4 separate regions of the Homo sapiens genome follow, and regions 1, 2 and 3 are each reported to be linked to region 4. The links are microRNA targets in miRTarBase. Many come from high-throughput screens and were not tested one by one. Region 4 holds a microRNA gene; each other region holds the end of a gene's coding sequence. Distances are between the middles of the regions.

The links. Region 4 holds the annotated microRNA hsa-miR-3940-5p (GUGGGUUGGGGCGGGCUCUG, at 1,399-1,418, shown strand). A microRNA usually pairs through its seed, bases 2 to 8, with sites in the 3' UTR of a target mRNA and lowers its output. Matches are read on the target gene's strand: a 7mer-m8 pairs with bases 2 to 8, a 7mer-A1 pairs with bases 2 to 7 and ends in A, and an 8mer does both.
Region 1: the mRNA of MED7 is a reported target of hsa-miR-3940-5p. The part of its 3' UTR that is shown has no 7-base or 8-base seed match.
Region 2: miRTarBase lists PPM1N as a target of hsa-miR-3940-5p. Seed matches in the 3' UTR shown: 7mer-A1 at 624-630 and 7mer-A1 at 763-769.
Region 3: miRTarBase lists TXNIP as a target of hsa-miR-3940-5p. Seed matches in the 3' UTR shown: 7mer-A1 at 1,946-1,952.

The regions. Positions count from the first base shown.
Region 1 is chr5:157,136,313-157,139,312 of GRCh38, reverse strand. It overlaps MED7 (mediator complex subunit 7), which reads left to right. Exons shown (of 2, transcript NM_004270.5): 2 at 1-1,889. The coding sequence ends at 583. Among named protein-coding and RNA genes, the nearest start is that of MED7, 5.1 kb to the left of the region's middle.
Region 2 is chr19:45,501,579-45,505,077 of GRCh38, forward strand. It overlaps PPM1N (protein phosphatase, Mg2+/Mn2+ dependent 1N (putative)), which reads left to right. Exons shown (of 5, transcript NM_001080401.2): 5 at 439-935. The coding sequence ends at 507. All of the region lies in intron 1 of LOC107985314 (a long non-coding RNA gene), which reads right to left. Among named protein-coding and RNA genes, the nearest start is that of VASP, 4.2 kb to the right of the region's middle.
Region 3 is chr1:145,990,896-145,994,394 of GRCh38, forward strand. It overlaps TXNIP (thioredoxin interacting protein), which reads right to left. Exons shown (of 8, transcript NM_006472.6): 6 at 3,386-3,499; 7 at 3,121-3,272; 8 at 1,540-2,991. The coding sequence ends at 2,956. Among named protein-coding and RNA genes, the nearest start is that of TXNIP, 3.9 kb to the right of the region's middle. RefSeq lists an enhancer at 1,813-1,892.
Region 4 is chr19:6,414,888-6,417,887 of GRCh38, reverse strand. It overlaps MIR3940 (microRNA 3940), which reads left to right and starts at 1,377; the gene lies at 1,377-1,478. KHSRP (KH-type splicing regulatory protein) reads left to right here. Exons shown (of 19, transcript NM_001366299.1): 11 at 47-149; 12 at 801-901; 13 at 1,006-1,150; 14 at 1,238-1,398; 15 at 1,481-1,590; 16 at 1,992-2,080; 17 at 2,154-2,354; 18 at 2,431-2,508; 19 at 2,587-3,000. The coding sequence ends at 2,864.

The sequences.
Region 1 (3,000 bases), not on the chromosome of region 4:
CAGTTACATGATGTTTGGCAATCAGTTCCAATGTGATGATCTTATCATCCGCCCTTTGGAAAGTCAGGGCATCGAACGGCTTCATCCTATGCAGTTTGATCACAAGAAAGAACTGAGAAAACTTAATATGTCTATCCTTATTAATTTCTTGGACCTTTTAGATATTTTAATAAGGAGCCCTGGGAGTATAAAACGAGAAGAGAAACTAGAAGATCTTAAGCTGCTTTTTGTACACGTGCATCATCTTATAAATGAATACCGACCCCACCAAGCAAGAGAGACCTTGAGAGTCATGATGGAGGTCCAGAAACGTCAACGGCTTGAAACAGCTGAGAGATTTCAAAAGCACCTGGAACGAGTAATTGAAATGATTCAGAATTGCTTGGCTTCTTTGCCTGATGATTTGCCTCATTCAGAAGCAGGAATGAGAGTAAAAACTGAACCAATGGATGCTGATGATAGCAACAATTGTACTGGACAGAATGAACATCAAAGAGAAAATTCAGGTCATAGGAGAGATCAGATTATAGAGAAAGATGCTGCCTTGTGTGTCCTAATTGATGAGATGAATGAAAGACCATGAAAGATGTTTCTTTTTCTTTTTTTCCTTTTGATAATAGCATCATATATTAGTTCATTTTCTTTTGGACAGTCTTAAGAGAAGTTTCACTAAAAATGTAAACAGCTTTAATCTTGACTCCAAATTTTTCAATTATGAGATGTCATAGGCAGTAATTTCGCTGTATAACAAGCATAGACAAATGAGTGTCCCTGCACTAAGAAGAATCACTTTAAAAAGCAAAGTGTTAGCTGCTGTTGTATGGGACATTCCTATGTTTTAGAGTTGCAGTAAAACTTTGATGATAACCTCAATAATAGCAAAGTTTTCGTCTTTGAAAAGGGGATTTAGCATTTGCTTTAAGAATGATAGATAAATGGATATTAAGCTCTCTACATGTAAAACTATGAAATCTTTAGACTTATTCCATTAAAAATTTTGCTTAAGCTCCAAAAAGTAGCATAACATGTTGATAGAGAGGAGCCCAGTAGAGTTATAAAATAGAAACTTCATTTTTTCCTCATGACTGCTTCTGTAAACCCACTAGCTCAGTCTTTTCTCCCTATCCTGAATGGACTCTTGCAGGGAAGTCCCATAAATTGTTGTTTTTTTTTCCAGTCACTCAGGTAATAAGTCCTTTGGTCACTTTAAGTTACAGACATTAATTTTAGTAATTAAGATGTCTGTGTCATTAGCTATACATTTTCTTTAAAGCTAAGCTCAGACTTGTTTAAGTCCACAATGGGAAAGGGGTTTGATGGCAGAGACTGCTAGGTGTCTACCAAAGATTCTTGCTCTTTGAAGATATGTTGTCAAGATGTGGCAATCCAGCCAGGGACATTTCCCTACTCCCAGCATCTCTGTGAGAACATATGACTAAGTCGTAGGCGGTGAAATGTGGGCATAGGAATCCAGGCTTGCCCCATAAACATTTCTTGCATGATCCTCCATTCTCTTCTCCCAGCTGCTGGTTGGACGGTCGTATCCAGGATAAGTTTGGAAGCCACCGAAGATGGCAAAGATTGTCAGTCTGGTTCTTTGAATGACCGTGAGGACTAAGTCTTCCTTTCAGTAACTCCACTCTGCCCCTAGCTAATTGGACTTTATATGAGCACTTTCTTCTCTTCTTCCCCCGACTGTCCATCTGCTCTTCCACCAAGGTGTTAGTGGAGAGTTGACCTTGTGTCTGAGGATCTCTGCCTGCCGTTTTCTTAATGTAGGCCCGTGGTTCTTAAAGTGTGTGGTCCTGGACCAGCAGCATTGGTATCACTTGGGGACTTACTAGAAATAAAAGTTTTAGTATAATCCGTAGGTTCAGAAAAATAAAAAATAAATGAGGGTTCTCTGGCTCCATCCCAGACCTTTTGAACCAGAAACTTCTGGGTGTAGGTCCCAGCAAGCTGTATTTTAAGAAGCCTATGTGATTATGATACATGCTCAAGATTAAGAAACATTGAGGCTGGGTGCAGTGGCCCACTCCTGTAATCCCAGCACTTCGGGAGGCTGAGGCTGGTGGATCACCTGAAGTCAGGAGTTCGAGACCAGCCTGACCAACATGGGGAAATCCCATCTCTACTAAAATACAAAATTAGCTGGGCTTGGTGGCGCATGCCTGTAATCCCAGCTACTCGGGAGGCTGAGGCAGGGAGAATCACTTGAATCTGGGAGGCAGAGGTTGTGGTGAGCTGAGATTGCACCATTGCACTCCAGCCTAGGCAACAAGAGCGAAACTCCATCTCAAAAACAAAAAAGAACCATTGAGAGGCAATGCCTTTCCCCAGATGTCTACTTTTTTATTTCTTCCTTAGCCCCTGGTTTCTAGCATAGGGATTTGCTCACTTAAACTTTCATTGGTCCTAGAGCTAGCAAAGTTCACATTAAAATGATTATAAGGGGCCTGGCGCAGTGGCTCATGCCTGTAATCCTAGCACTTTGGGAGGCTGAGGTGGGTGGATTGCTTGAGGTCAGGAGTTTGATACCAGCCTGGCCAACATGGCAAAACCCCGTCTGTACTAAAAATACAAAAATTAGCCGGGCATAGTGGCAGGCGCCTGTAATCCCAGCTACTCGGGAGGCTGAGGCACGAGAATTCCTTGAACCCAAGGGGTGGAGGTTGCAGTGAGCCGAGATCGTGCCACTGCACTCCAGCCTGGGTGACAGCAAAACTCTGTCTAAAATATATATATATATGTGTATGTATGTATATATGTATGACTATAGGTCAGTTCTCTATGAAATGTGCATGCTGTGCTTTCACAGATCCAGGGACTGTAAGTTATCCCTAGGTAGACACTTCTTTATCAGATAGGCAGTTGGTTGGCTAGTCTCAACTTTTGTTTTTTTCTGGTACGTAATGTGTTTGGTATAGACCTTTGGGCCTCAGAGACTCCAGAGGACATAGTTCAGGCTCTCAAGCTTAAATTGAAGTAGGGAGCATCACC
Region 2 (3,499 bases), 39 Mb from region 4:
CATGTAATTGAAGAGTTTAGAGTCTTAAGGCATGGCTGCATCTAGTTGTCAGATGATGTCATCATGAATGGTCTCTTTTTATTTTCTCCGAGTTGGCTTCATTACCTTTCAGGGTCTCCTCCTAAGGTAGCGGAGACTTGCAGCTCCAGGCTTACACCCCAGCAGCCTGTCCTCCCCAGTGGAGAAAGTTTGCCAATTTCCCCGGAGTTGCAGCAGTGGTCTTTGGGGGCTGGTTCTCATTGGCCACACCAGGTCACATGCTGACCAGTCACTGTGTCTGATTGGCCAGGCTGGGGTCGCACTTGGGGTTGGGGTCCACTCCATTCAAACCTTAATGGATTGTGAGATGGGATATGGTGGTCCCTCAAAGGAAAAGGAAGAGGTGCCAGGAGACAAGACAGAATTTCTCATTACCTTCTCCCACATTTTGTGTTACAGAAGGGGCAGGATGGGGCTGGGAAGTCCAACCCCACGCATTTGGGCTCAGCCTTGGACATGGAGGCCTGACAGCTGTTGTCCTTTGGGGATCCTTTGCTTCTCTGGGGCCTCAACAGAACTAAAGAAGAAAACCGACCCTTTCCCCAACTACATGTACCAGCGGAAGGAAGGAAGGCCAATGTAGGAACCCAAAATGCTTATTTCTTCTTCTCTTACTTCCCTCTCACAGAAAAGTCTTACGAATGGGGAAATTCCACCAACATCCAGACCAAAAAGAAAAAAGCCCAAATCGAAAAAAAAAAAAAAAAAAAAAAAAAACAAAAAAACCCAACCAAATGTTTTTGAAATATTCAGAGCCGAACAGATTCTGAGAGATAACCCAGTCCAATAACCTCTTTCCTTCTTATTACTCATCTGTTTTTGAGGGGAAGTAGAGTTTTGATTATTAAACTTTATTTACATAAGTGATTCCAAATACATTTTCTTGTAAAAAACAAGAAGACATGTTTTGCCTAGTCTGTTAGCAAATACGTTACAGGGCACCTGCTGTGTGCCAGGTCTTAGCCTCACAGTCATGAACCAGGCTGACCCACCAAGATCCTTGCCACTGTGGGGCTGACCTCTTGGTCAGGAGACGCAGCAAACAAGGGAATCAATAAATAAAGTCATCTCGCCAGGCGCAGTGGTCCACATCTGTAATCTCAGCACTTGGGGGAGTCTGAGGTGGGAGGATCACTTGAGCCCAAGAGTTCGAGACCAGCCTGGGCAACATAGCAAGATGCAATCTGTAATTTTTTTTTTTTTTTTTTTTTTTGAGACGGAGTCTCGCTCTGTCACCCAGGCTGGAGTGCAAGGGTGCTCTCTCGGCTCACTGCAAGCTCCGCCTCCCGGGTTCATGCCATTCTCCCGCCCAGTCTGTAATTAATACTAAAAAAATGAAGTCATCTTGCACACTGACAAGTGTCACGAAGAAAATAAAACAGGAGGATGTGTTGAGAAAATGACTAGGGGAGCTACTTCGGGTTTTTTACTTTTTCCAATTTTTAAAATTTTGATTTATTTAATTCAGGTAGTTTTGAATGGGTAATAAATTCACTTGGTTTGAAATGCAAAGAGTGCAAGATGGCATACAATGAAGTCTTTCTCTATCCCTCTCACACTTCAGCCACTCAATTTTCCGTGGTGGGGGAGGTGGCTTTTGAAACAGGGGAATCAGGAAAGGTCTCTGAGGAGGGGACAGTTGAGCAGAGACCTGACAGAGAAGAGTCAGCTCCGCAAATACCCCAAAGAGTGTTCTAAGGCAGAGGGAACAATCAGTATGAAGGCTTAGAAGCAGGATAAAATTTCCCCCCTTTTTTTTTTTTTTTTTGAGACAGAGTTTTCACTCTTGTTGCCCAGGCTGGAGTGCAATGGTGCAATCTCGGCTCACTGCAACCTCCGCCTCCTGGGTTCAAGTGATTCTCCTGCCTCAGCCTCCCAAGTAGCTGGGATTACAGGCACGTGCCACCACACCAGGCTAACTTTTTGTATTTACTACAGACAGGGTTTCACCATGTTAGTCAGGCTGGTCTCGAACTCCTGACCTTAGGTGATCCACCCAACTCGGCCTCCCAAAATGTTGGGATTACAGGCATGAGCCAGCCACCAGGTCCGGCCAAATTTGGCATTTTCAAGACAGACTTGAGACCTCCCAAGTGCGGTGGCTCACACTTGTAATCCCAGCACTTTGGGAGGCCGAGGCAGCTTGATTCCAGGAATTCGAGACCAGCATGGGCAACATAGCAAAACCTTGTCTCTACAAAAAAAAAAAAAGATCTCTGTGACCACCAAATTAACCCCACACTCTCTATCTCACTGGTAACCCTTGCAATGAGTTTAAAGTGGACTTTTTACATGTATTAATATATGGTATTCTGGGTGTTTCCTTGATTTTTTTCATTCCCTTCGTATCTCTGGCAACTTTTTATCCACTTAATGGATGTTTTCATTCTATGTCACCCACGTCATTTACACACTTCATGCCACCCGTTTTTTTAAGAGACAAGGTCTAAGTCTGTATCCCAAGCTGGAGTATAATGGCGCAATCATCGCTCACCACAGCCTCGAACTCCTGGGCTCAAGCAATCCTCCTACCTCATCTTCCCAAGTAGCTGGGACCACAGATGGATGATACCACACCCAGTTAATTTTTTTTTTTTTTTTAGAGATGGGGTCTCGGCCAGGCGCAGTGGCTCACACGTGTAATCCCACCACTTTGGGAGGCCCAGGTGGGCAGATCTTCTGAGGTCAGGAGTTCGAGACCAGCCTGACCAACATGGAGAAACCCCATCTCTACTAAAAAATGCAAAAATTAGCTGGGCTTGGTGGTGCATGCCTGTAATCCCAGCTACTTGGGAGGCTGAGGCAGGAGAATCGCTTGAACCCAGGAGGTGGAGGTTGCAGTGAGCCGAGATTGCGCCATTGAACTCTAGCCTGGGAAACAAGAATGAAACTCTGTCTCAAAAAAAAAAAAAAAAAAAAGAGAGAAATGGGGCCTCACTATGTTGTCCAGGCTGGTCTCAAACTCCCTGACCTCAAGTGATCCTCCTGCCTTGGCTTCTCAAAGCACCAAAGCACTGGGATTACAGGCATGACACACCTTGCCCAGTCCACACCTCCTTAAGTTGCTGCTCACTCCGTGCTTCAGAAAAGGATGTCCAAGGGTTTCACTATTCCCTGCCCTCATCTTTTTTTTGTTTTGTTTTGTTTAATTTTTTTTGAGGAGTCTTGCTCTGTCTCCCAGGCTGGAGTGTAGTGTCACGATCTTGGCTCACTGCAACCTCCGCCTCCGGGGTTCAAGTGATCCTCCCACCTCAGCCCCTCAGCCACCCAAGTAGCTGGGATTACAGGTGTGTGCCACCATGCCTGGTTAATTTTTTGTTTTTGGTAGAAACGGGGTTTCACCATGTTGGCCAGGCTGGTCTTGAACTCCTGACCTCAAGTGATCCACCCGCCTCGGCCTCCCAAAGTGCTGGGATTACAGGCGTGAGCCACTGTGCCCAGCCTCCCCTGTCCTCTTGAT
Region 3 (3,499 bases), not on the chromosome of region 4:
CATAGCTCACTGTAACCTAGAACTTCTGGGCTTGAATGATCCTCTTGCCTCAGCCTTGTGAGTAGCTAGAGCTACAACACCCCACACTGATTTCATGTAGAATTTCCAGGAGCCTGTTATTTGGAATTAGTTTGTGGAAGTCCTCAGAAAAATCAATTCCCAAATAAGGACCAGGACCAGATCTGTGCAAATATTTAAATTGGCCATCCCAGGGTTTCTCCACCTGTCGGTTCTTTAGGAATGAAAATCACTGCTGGGCGCCATGGCTCACACCTGTAATCCCAGCACTTTAGGAGGCTGAGGCGGGTGAATCACGGGAAGTCAGGAGTTCGAGACCAGCCTGGCCAACATGGTGAAACCCCGTCTCTACTAAAAATACAAAAATTAGCTGAGTGTGGTGGCTCATGCCTGTAATCCCAACTACTCAAGAGTCTGAGGTAGCAGAATCGCTTGAACCTGGGAGGCGGACATTGTATTAAGCCAAGATTGGGCCACTGCACTCTAGCCTGGGAGACAGAGCAAGACTCTATCTCAAAAAAAAGAAAGAAAGAAAGAAAGAAAGAAAATCACACCAATTAAACATGGGATTGTGGTATTACTCTACTACTATTACCCTACAAGGAATAGGAACCATCAAATCATCTAAGGGATGAGGGTGAAGTTGAATAGTTAGCAAACATTTACTGAGTTATGTGCTTGGTTAGGAACTGTGAAAATAAAAAATGGTTAGCTGCCTCCAAAGAATTTAATACTCATAACTCTATAACCTCTTAAGTCCTGAAGTTATCCTTGTTAGTATATAAATCAAGTTTACATTGGGAAGAAACCCTATGATAAAACCATATTGTAAAAAGGGGATCTTCAGCTGAGTGTGGTGTCTCACGCCTGTATTCCCAACTCTTTGGGAGGCCAGGGCCAGCAGATCACTTGAGCCCAGAAGTTTGAGGCCAACCTGGACAACATGGCAAAACCCGAACTCTACAAATAATCAAAAAATTAGCTGAGCGTAGAAAAAACAAACACATACACACACACACACGCACACACAATTAACTGAACGTAGTTGTGTATGCCTGTAGCCCAGCTATGTGGGAGGCGGAGATGGGAAGATCACTTGAGCCCAGGAAATCAAGGCTGCAGTGAGCTAAGATCATACTACACTCCAGCCTGGGTGAGTGAGACTGTCTCAAAAAAAGGAACCGCCACTCTTTTCTTTCAAATGCCCTCATAAACATCATCTCCCTGTATTTCAAGAACCCATGAACTCCAAAACTGAAGGAATTTAGTAATGATTACCTATGGATTTGGAAAACTAGTTTAGACAACCGGAAAATCCCAGTATAGTTGTTCAGTGAATCTGAAACATGCCTCAAACGGTTTCCCTCTTCACCTTCTAGCCCCCACTCTGCCGACATTCCTTAGGGTCCATAGGGAGTGTTTTCTCCACAAGGTTTTCATTAGTGTGGATTGTTAAGTAGAGGAAAACTCCTTTAGACACACCTTCTTTCCAAAAACTTTTCCAAAGCCATCTCACAGACATTTTTTTTTCCATTAAAAAAACTTTATTTTCATTTTTTACAAAGAATATCCCCATCTGGGGTAAAAATATATCTGGTTAAGTACAAAATATAGTCTTTACCATACAAAAAGATACATAATACAAAAACATGAAACCAACCATCTTCAGCCCACACTTTCTGGCTGTAATAACTCTCAGAAAAGGGTGGAGCTCAGTGCTCTGACACAGGACAGTGAACAAAGTGCTATGGCTGAGAGTGACTGACCAAGTGCTGGCAGCTGCAGTGAGGGGCCAATATCCCTATCTCCTAACACAGGGCAGGAAGGGGGTTCAAAGGGCTTTTATGAAGACCTGCCCTCTAGTTTCTCATGGCAGTATTTGGAGGTTCTGATCACAGGGTTGGGCATCTTGATCAAGAGTTCCTCCTTGGGTTTGAAGTCACAGTGGGCAAGGCTGACAGCAGCAACCCTTTCACATGATTTAAGCGTTAGAATTATATAATTCTGTACATTGGGGCAATCTCAAAAGTAGTAAAATTTTTTTTGTCTTTTGGCTTAACCCTAGAGACACAGTAGACCAGTTTCAGCTTACATTTAAGATGGCAGAAGGGGAGAACAAAAAATTTGACAGGAATTAAAGTGCTAAGAACATCACCTTAGAATCAATTCCAAGGACTTACATGAAGAGAAAACCATCCTCCCATATGAAAATATTTGCAGTAGGAGAACACAGTGCAATAGGCTCCAAAAATGGCTTTTAAGACCTTTGGTGGGGCAGTTACTACTGCTTTAAAAGCCAGGTTAAAGTATACTCTAAGCAAAGATGACCGTAGAGCAGCTAGCTTCCTTTTTTATAATCACAGGGAAAGCTCTCTCCATTGTCCATCAAATCAGCTCTAGAAGGTTTTTCTTTTTTTTCTACAAGTGCACAAAGGGGAAACACTGATTTTAAGAACCTCCTTTTCCCAAAGTTTTGGCCACAATTTCCCTTTTCATCTTCCTAGTTTGTTAAATTGGCTCTTCTCCACATGATACGTAAGTTCAAGGTCCAAAGTTCCTATCACAATTTACAAAAAGCCTCCAAAAAACCTTGAAAAGCTTACGCCAGGAGGCCATTTTTACCTGACCCGAAACTATCGAAAAGGCCTCAATTTTCAAGGAGATCTGAGAAAATGGATGGGCCTGAGTTTTTCTAGTTATTTTTAAACCCATCCAACAAACACCCCTGTATCACAACATGGGCGCTGGCTGAGGATGAGTCCGCATCCTTTAAGGCCCAGGAGATTGCCTGCTGACCACCTCCTACATTAGGAAGTCAGAGGCTAAGGTGGACCCACACTCCATTGCAGAGACTGTTGAGTCTCTGAAAAAGTGAGTGTCCAGGAAGAGAGACAAAAAGAAACAAGTAGGTAAAGCTGCTTCTTTTCTTCCACATGCTCACTGCACATTGTTGTTGAGGATGCAGGGATCCACCTAAAGAAAGAAACAGACTATTTCAGTTCAGGTAAGAACAAAAAGAACAAACCAGTTTAGCAATCCGTCTAAGTCAACTTCTTATAGAAAGCTTAGGACAAATTTAACAGTAAAGATGACAATCCTCACCTCAGTATAAGTCGGTGGTGGCATGAACTTGAACTCAGGGGCATACATAAAGATAGGGCTGTCTTGAGAGCCATCCATGTCATCTAGCAGAGGAGTGGTTGGGCTCTCCAATCGGTGATCTTCAGGAATGACATCCATATAGCAGGGAGGAGCTAGAAAAGAAAATATGGCCACATAAGAATCCTGCCCAAGAAATGCTGGACCATCACAATTTTACAAACCCAGGTAGACCAGAAACAAAGAAAAGACATTAGGTCTGGCTCACCTTCTGGGGTATCAGGGATGTTCAGATCTACCCAACTCATCTCAGAGCTGGTTCGGCTGGCCATGCTGGATGTTCTGCTGCTTAGACCTGATCTGCTGCCAATTACCAGGGGCA
Region 4 (3,000 bases):
GCAGCAGAGCTGCGGGCCGAGCTGACGCTGCTGCCTCCCTCCCCAGGTGCCAGTGCCCAGGCATTCTGTTGGCGTGGTCATTGGCCGGAGTGGAGAGATGATCAAGAAGATCCAGAATGATGCTGGCGTGCGGATACAGTTCAAGCAAGGTCAGGGCCTGGCCCACCCTGCCCCTGGCCAGTGCACCCCCACCCTCTTTGGGAGGCAGGCTCTGAGGGAGCTGGGCACCGTGGTCAGCCAGGTGGCCTCCATAGCACCTCACGGCTCTTAGTCCAGCCGTCAGAACATGGCCAGTCCCTTCTCTTCTCTGGGACAGACACATGAGGGCTTTCCACATCCAGGGGGAACGTGTGTTCCTATCCCTATCAGATCTCCTCTTCCTCCCCCTACGATGGAGCCTATCCTGACAGGACAGCCCTGGGTGCCCCGCAGGCTGGATCAGGGCACTCCACCTCAGCTCTGGGCTCTTGCCAGTCCTCAGGCAGTCTCTGAGCTGCCTGCCGTGGGGAGAAGGGCCCCTCTGGCTTTTCAGAGATTTATTGTTCTGTAAAATCTCTCAGTGCTGGGGGTGCTGTGTGCTGGAAGAAGCTTGAGCCACCTCCTGGCTTGGCCGTGGGTTTCCTTCTCTGGGAATGTGGGCCGCCTCCCCCTCAATCCCTGAGCGAGTGGAGGCTGGGAGCGGCGCAGCGCGTCTGAGATCTCAGGCCGGCGTGGTGTCTGCGCTGGAGGCGGCGTTGCAGGGCTCTGGGGTGGGCTCTTCTTTTAAACTTGTGTCTCTGCTCTCTCGGTGCTGGCCTCAGATGACGGGACAGGGCCCGAGAAGATTGCTCATATAATGGGGCCCCCAGACAGGTGCGAGCACGCAGCCCGGATCATCAACGACCTCCTCCAGAGCCTCAGGGTAGGTGGCCCCGGGTGCTGAAGGGGCTGGCAGGGCCTCCAGGGGAGTGCAAGACCAGACCGGCTTCCAGGGTTCATCATCCTCCTCCTCCTCTTGTCTTGCAGAGTGGTCCCCCAGGTCCTCCAGGGGGTCCAGGCATGCCCCCGGGGGGCCGAGGCCGAGGAAGAGGCCAAGGCAATTGGGGTCCCCCTGGCGGGGAGATGACCTTCTCCATCCCCACTCACAAGTGTGGGCTGGTCATCGGCCGAGGTGAGTGTGGCCCCCTGCACCCTATCCCTTGCCCCCTCTTCCCTGGGCCATCACTGCAGGCCACCTTCACCTTCTGCGTTTCTGCAGGTGGCGAGAATGTGAAAGCCATAAACCAGCAGACGGGAGCCTTCGTAGAGATCTCCCGGCAGCTGCCACCCAACGGGGACCCCAACTTCAAGTTGTTCATCATCCGGGGTTCACCCCAGCAGATTGACCACGCCAAGCAGCTTATCGAGGAAAAGATCGAGGTGGGTTGGGGCGGGCTCTGGGGATTTGGTCTCACAGCCCGGATCCCAGCCCACTTACCTTGGTTACTCTCCTTCCTTCTAGGGTCCTCTCTGCCCAGTTGGACCAGGCCCAGGTGGCCCAGGCCCTGCTGGCCCAATGGGGCCCTTCAATCCTGGGCCCTTCAACCAGGGGCCACCCGGGGCTCCCCCACAGTGAGTATCCTCTGCCTCCTGGGTTTTGAGGCCGGGGGCTTACTGAGCTGGCAAGAAGAATAGCAGACCCCATTTCCCTTTCCCTAGAAGTGCAGGCGGGGGGCCTCATCCAGCCCATTTTTGTGGATACCATCAACAGGCCCTCTCCTGTCTACTGGTAGAGCATGTGCCTTTCAGCATCCCTCTGTGCACGTGCAAGTTTCGCGGCTTCTTTCATGTCCTCAAGCTGACGCTGCGCGTCCTTCGAGTTGCTTCTTGTCTAGGCCTTTCCCAGGCGCCCCGTTGAGCCTGGTGGTCTGGGTCTCTGGCGCCTCCCCACTGAAAAACATCCCCACCCCAGGTGGTCCGGCTGCGGCCACCCCCGCACCACTGCTCAAGCATCCCTTTCTTCTCTCCTGCAGTGCCGGGGGGCCCCCTCCTCACCAGTACCCACCCCAGGGCTGGGGCAATACCTACCCCCAGTGGCAGCCGCCTGCTCCTCATGACCCAAGTAAGTGATGGGCCACCTGGCGGAGGGCAGGCCCTGTTCTGTCCCCCCGTCTCACCCGAGGTATCTCCTGCAGGCAAAGCAGCTGCAGCGGCCGCGGACCCCAACGCCGCGTGGGCCGCCTACTACTCACACTACTACCAGCAGCCCCCGGGCCCCGTCCCCGGCCCCGCACCGGCCCCTGCGGCCCCACCGGCTCAGGGTGAGCCCCCTCAGCCCCCACCCACCGGCCAGTCGGACTACACTAAGGCCTGGGAAGAGTATTACAAAAAGATCGGTGAGTCTGCAGGGTGGCGGGGGGGCTCCAGCCCTGCCGGGGGAGTGGTTTCTGACCTGTCTCGGCGCCCGCACAGGCCAGCAGCCCCAGCAGCCCGGAGCACCCCCACAGCAGGACTACACGAAGGCTTGGGAGGAGTACTACAAGAAGCAAGGTGAGTGGCCACCATGCGGGGACAGGGGCAGGGGCAGCCCTCACCCACAGCCTCTCACCTGCCTTTGTCCACCCACAGCGCAAGTGGCCACCGGAGGGGGTCCAGGAGCTCCCCCAGGCTCCCAGCCAGACTACAGTGCCGCCTGGGCGGAATATTACAGACAGCAGGCCGCTTACTACGGACAGACCCCAGGTCCTGGCGGCCCCCAGCCGCCGCCCACGCAGCAGGGACAGCAGCAGGCAAGTGGGAATTGCCACCCTCCTCCTCCTCCTTTCTCCTTCCAACCCCCGGCCACCGTCCATCCTGCCTTAGTGGGTAGCGCCGGAAACCCCTTCCCCTGCGGGGTGTGCCCTTGATGCCTGCAGCGGGGGCCGTGTGGCCGGAGGTCTCCGGGAGTCCCCACGCACCGCCAGGGAAGCATTCGCTGGGTCCAGAGGTTAAACGAAGAGGCCTCCCTGCGCCGGCTGCTTGTTCCTGTGTGCCGCTGTCGTG